2 separate regions of the Homo sapiens genome follow, and region 1 is linked to region 2. The links come from fine-mapping of genetic effects on gene expression. A gene starts in region 2. The other region holds a variant in brackets. All regions are shown on one strand. Distances are between the middles of the regions. Region 1 overlaps CMTM8 (CKLF like MARVEL transmembrane domain containing 8). Region 2 holds the start of CMTM8 (CKLF like MARVEL transmembrane domain containing 8).

Region 1 (2,909 bases), 43 kb before region 2:
AGGAACCCATGGGGTCTTGCAGACTGAAACTGAACAGACTGGCTCTCTCACTCCAAATGCAATGGGAAGTGGAATATCATGACACATCTTACCAGGATATCTCTGGCTGTTGTGCTGAGAGCAGACCGGTGTAGGGGGTCGGTTATAGGCAGGGAAATCAGCTAAGAGGCAATATAAAAATAATACAAGAGAGGATGTTAGTTTGGCTGAGGGTGATAATACTGCAGGTGGTAAGAATTGATAACATTCTGGGTATATATTTTTTTAATTTTTTTCTAATATCGCCAAATCACCATTCTCATAGCTAAAAATAATTAATGATAATATCCAATATCCAGTCAATATTCAAATAACCCTGATCATCTCATAATTATTTTATGGTTGCTTGGATCAATATCCAAATATGGTACATATATTGCAACTGACTTTTATCTCATAAATCTCTTTTAATCTATAGGCATCTCCTCTATTCCTTTTTCTTTAAAATTTATTTTTTGAAAAAACTGGGTCATTTGTCCCGTACACACAATCTAGATTTTGCTGACTGTGTCCTCATGGGTTCTTTTAATATGTTTCTCTGTTCTCTGTATTAACCCAAAACTGATACTTAGCCTGAGTTGCCTATGAGACATATCAGAAGAGATGGTGAGTGGGCAGATACAAATCTGGGATCCAGGGGAGAAGTCTAGGCTGGGGCTAGAAATGAGGACCTATAGAGAGAGTTGAAAGCCATGATTCTGAGGGAATGAGTGTAGACGGAAAAGAGGAATGTTCTAAGGCCTGAGCCCTGGCACTCTTGTATTTACAGTTGGGGAGATAAGGAGGCACCAGGAAAGAAGATGAGGTACACATCCAGTGAGATAAGAAAAAAAAATTAGGACAGTGACCTTTGAAGCCAAGAAAATAAGATATTTAAAGGATTGAGGGGAGGGGTCAACTGTGTCAATGTGGCCTTCAGGCTCAGTATGATAAGCACTGAAAGTTGACCATTTGGCTTGGCAAAACAGACGTCACTGGTGCCCTTGGTAAGAGCTGTTTGGGTAGACTAGTGACAAGGCTGATTGGAGAGGGTTCAGTCAGGAGCAGGTGGGATGAGAGGAATTAGGAAATAAAGACAACTCATTCAAGAAGTTTTGCTGCAAGGTGGAGCAGAGAAAAAAGGTGACAACTGTTGAAGAATGAGGGACATATCTTCTGGAGGGAAGATATGTTACAGTTTTCAAGATGGCATTCATCACAGCATATTATCTCCAGGAAATTTTAACATCTCAGATAAACTGTCTATTTAGATACTACATGTATATATGTACTTTATTCATTTAAAAAAGGTAAGATTTCCCTCCCTACCCCCAAGAACCAGTTTTTGCTCCCTTGCAAGCAACACCACCCCTTGATGAGAATGCATGTGCTAAATTAATCAAAACGTTCCAAGAGAAGAGACGAATCCAGCTGCCTGACTCTTCCAACTTTTATTAATGTAAAGAGTTCTTTTGATGGGTAAGAGAAATATTTTCAGGTACAGTGTAGCCACTAGAGAGGTGCCAGGGAAAACAGAGCTTACAGCTAAACATGTGCTCCTACACAAAATCCTGCCATGGTGGGCCTACAAGGTATCTCTACATACTAATAGTCATACACAGGAGCATCAAACCTCAGGATTGTCCCCATGCAGAGATGGGG[C/G]TTGGGGAGTTCCAGGATAACTCCCTTCAGAAATAGTTGGGTGCACTGAATTAACAGTCTACCATTTAGAGTCAGGAAGATCTGGTGTGAATCCCACTTCTGCCGCCTCCTGGTTGTGACCTTAGGTCACGATAATCTCTCTCACCCTCAGCTGCTTTATTTATAAAATGAGACAAAGGTAGTTCCAAATATAATTGTCACTTTTTTTTTTTTTTTTTTTTTTTTGCCTATTTTCTCTCGTGTTGGAGACCTACCTTTCCTTCAATGTAATTTGAGTAGGGTCGACTCCACCCCAGGTACCAGAAGTAGACAGATGACCCAGGTATGGCCAGACTACTTATGTTACCAGTGACGGGTCTTGACTGTGAGTCATCCAGGTTCTTGGCACTTTGAGCAAAGAATTGGACAAAACACACAAATGAAGCAATGAAACTACAGATTTTTGAAACGAAAGCACACTCCACAGTATGGGAGTGGGCTCAAGCATGCTGGTTATGGAATTTTCTGGGGTTTAAATACCTTCTAGAGGTTTCTCACTGGTTACTTGGTTACAGCCTATGTAAATAAAGAAGTGGCCCATGACCAGTCTGATTGATTGCAGAAGGCAACCAATCAAAGGCTGAAGTGAAGTTACAAAGTTATACCCCTATGCAAATAAAGACTAGGCCCACGACCAGTCTGATTGGTTGCAGAAGGGGACCAATCAGAGTACTTTCCATTTTCCATCTGCCACGAAGAAAAAGTGGGTGGGGGTGCAAAGGAAGTAGCTTATGATCCTTTTGTTACTTGGGCATGGAAAGTTGGGGTTTTCCTTTTAATTCCATTCTAGGAAATCAGCGTGAATCAGCCTTAGGTTCCCTGCTTCCAGACCCTATTCTCCCCCCTCACTTATGCCTGGCCACATTGACTGGACTGAGAATGGCCATGTGACCTGAGCTAGGTCAATCAGGGACTTCCTCCTGATTGGTGGCCACTACGAAGTGCTTGGTTACCACTATGAAGCAATAGATTTATGGTTTCTTAAAAAAATCACTAATTATATTGACAGTGGGGTGTTAAAGTCTCCCATTATTAATAACAGACACTTCTCAAAAGAAGACATTTATGCAGCCAAAAAACACATGAAAAAATGCTCATCATCACTGGCCATCAGAGAAATGCAAATCAAAACCACTATGAGATATCATCTCACACCAGTTAGAATGGCAATCATTAAAAAGTCAGGAAGC
Region 2 (2,909 bases):
AAAAGTCTGTGAGAGATGACAGAGGGGCACTGCTGGGGCAGCTGGAAGCTGTCTCAACTGCTTGCAGTTATGAGCACGGCCCTGCAGAAAGGCAGGCCTGGGTTTGAATCCATGCTTCACCATCCACCGGTGTGATTTACGTCCCCTCTCTAGGCCTTCACAGGGGAGGGTGGTCGTTGGATTACACGAGGGTATGAGGACATCTAAAGGGCTTGACAAGATCCTGGTACACGAAGAAGACTCAAACAGTGACCACCTCTAACTGCTGACAGGACTCCAGTCCTTTCTCAGCTATGAAGGACTGGCTGGGACTTCTGGGAAGATCACGTGAGTTTTCAGCCTCTATGCCCTCCAATGAAGAGAAGAACGCCCATGCCCTGCCTCCTTCCCAGGAATGTTCTGAGCCTAAACCAGGATGTGCACAGCACCATGCAAAAGACCTCTTTGGTCCTAAAATAGGTTATGGCACTCAGATTTTATTCAGTAAAATTTTCCTGACTCACCTCAATGTTACTACCAGGGAGATAATTAGGAAAAGAAAGAAGCCCTTTCCTCTTCCCCTGATCTTAGGAAGCTTTATTTTCAGGGAGGAGGCCATCCACGTGGAGATCAGGTGAGAAAGGCACCAGGTGTCTCTGACACTCAACACAAACTCAATAGCCACTAAGCCAAGCTTCCTGCTCCCAGGATCTGCCGCCGCCACCGAGAGGACCCAACAAGCTGAATTTCTCCCACAGCAAGACATCCTGAGGATCACAACCCTTTCTTCCCAGGACAGCCCGAGTTTCCTGGACCTTGTTTAGAGTCTTTCACTTTGGGAAGAAGGCGAGGCTGAGCAAAAACGGTTCCCTAAAGCCCGCGGGAAGATCTGAGCAGGCTCCATCCCGAGAAGCACGGCGGAAGCACGCGCCGGGGTCCAGCTGAGCCCCCCGCCACCCCCGGCCCGTCGGCACTCACGATCTCGGCCACGATGAGGAAGCCGGGCAGGGTGCGGAGGAACTCCCGGTCGTAGGCGAAGCTGCTGCTGCTGGTGGAGAAGTTCTCTGCGAAGGAGCTGGCGGTGGTGGTGACTGTGTGCGAGCGGGCGCGCTGCGGCTCCTCCATCGTCGAGCCACTGCCGGGCTGGCGCGTCCCCAGGGACCCCGGCGGGTCTGGGGCTGGACGCGCGGCCCTGCGCCCTGGGGACACAGGCGCGGGGGAGGGGAGCGCGGCCCGCGCGGGGCAGGAGGTGCGAGGGGGGCGCCCGCCGGGGGCTGTCCAGGCGCGGCGGGTGTCCCTCTAGTGCGCGGTGCCCCTAGCGCCTCGGTGCGCGGGCTCCCGAGCTGCGCTGGGGCCCTAGAGGAAGAGGAGAGCGAGCGAGGGGAGGCTGCCGGGCAGCCGGGGAAGGCGGTGGAGGCCCGGAGGAGGGGAGGGGGCGGGGAGAGGGGCGGGCGGGAGGCGGGCAGGAGAGGGACCGCCCCGCGGAGGCGCCGCGGACGCCCGCCCTCTTCACCTGTTGCCCGACTCCCAGCGGCGGAGAAGGCGCCGCGTCGCACCCAGGGTGGCTGGGTTGGCAGCCTGGCGGGCGGCGCGGAGGAGAGGGCGCAGGGGTCCTTCTGGCCGTCTTCCGCTCCCCCTCCCGGCCTTTACTTCTGTCAGGCCCCGCCTGGCCCAGGCCCGCAGCCTGTTTCCTTCCACCTGGGCGGGTCGGGGGCTGCGGGCATTGGGGCCCCTTAAGGAAACCCAGGCCTCCAGGGACTCCGCCGCTCCAGGACTCGGCGCGGAGGGAATGACTGAGCGACGACCGAGGCAGGGGGTGATGTGGTACCTCGAATGCTGTGGAAATGGCAGGAATGATGACCCGGCCGGACCTTAGACCCGAGATCGATGAGAGGCCGCCAGCACTGCCCGGGAGACGGCCCGCTCTTCTCCCCCTCCTGCTGCGGCCGCCGCCAGAGCCCGGTGTTATTTCCTGCCCCTCCTGTCGGGAACAATTTGAGGAACCAACTTAATCGCTTGGCTTTGAGGGCGCGACGCTTCCAGGCGCTCTCCGCGGCTCTGTCCCGCGGACCGGTGGAGCCTGGGTGACGGCGCCTGGGCCGGAGGAGGGGAGATGTTTGGGGTCCCTGGCCAGGATGAATCAGCGTAACCGTCCCGTCACCCTCGGGGAAAAAAAATGTTTCAAGAAGGCTTGAAGGGTGTGATTTGTGTAATGTTAACTTTAGGACAAATGAGCTGTGCTTTCCTGGCATGGGAAGGGGATGGGGGTCCTCATTTAGTGAGGCAGTTTGTAACAGGGTCAGGGAAGAACTGAGCTCGGCTGCGTGCGTTTATCGGCTGTATGACCCAGAGCGAGTGGCTCTAGTTTTTGGACCTCAGTAATGCCATCTCTAAAATGCAGGCTTTGACAGATGGACCTCTGAACAAAAAGATTATCTTCCGCTTGGTCCCTCCTTCTATTTTGTGAAAGGGTAGCAAGAAACATTTTATCTGGAAGCCACCAAAAGAAAAGGAAATAATCTTTGGCTATAAATCGAGGGTATCTTTGATTCACAGTGAAGGCATTTCTGCTGATCTGTTCCAAGACAGGTTAAAAACGAGATCAGAAGGGACATTTTCTTCACAGTGTCTTATCAAGTGTGCTGAGAAGAAAGCAAAAACGACAATCTAATAAAATAAAACAAGGAATTAGTGTCTTTTAAGTCTAGGGCCTAGCCAGGAAGACCTCCAGGAGTAAAAGTTAAGGCTTCAAAAGCATGGCAAAGATGTAGATTTGGAGAGATTCCATCCATGTGCATTTGGTAAGCACCTTGGGCTGGTGGGTAAATTCTTAAAATTTAAAATATAGCACTTCTCCCTGGAGCAGTAGTTCTCAAAGTGGTCCTTGGACCAACAGCAGGTAAGTTCCCTGGGAACTTATCAAAAATGCA

What was found.
Region 1: its variant is fine-mapped to the expression of CMTM8 in whole blood (TOPMed, PIP above 0.99).

The regions. Positions count from the first base shown.
Region 1 is chr3:32,279,843-32,282,751 of GRCh38, reverse strand. All of the region lies in intron 1 of CMTM8 (CKLF like MARVEL transmembrane domain containing 8), which reads right to left. Among named protein-coding and RNA genes, the nearest start is that of CMTM8, 43 kb to the right of the region's middle. The variant C/G (reference allele first, on the strand shown) is at 1,681.
Region 2 is chr3:32,237,168-32,240,076 of GRCh38, reverse strand. CMTM8 (CKLF like MARVEL transmembrane domain containing 8) reads right to left here and starts at 1,397. Exons shown (of 4, transcript NM_178868.5): 1 at 958-1,397. The coding sequence starts at 1,104. RefSeq lists a silencer at 1,384-1,593.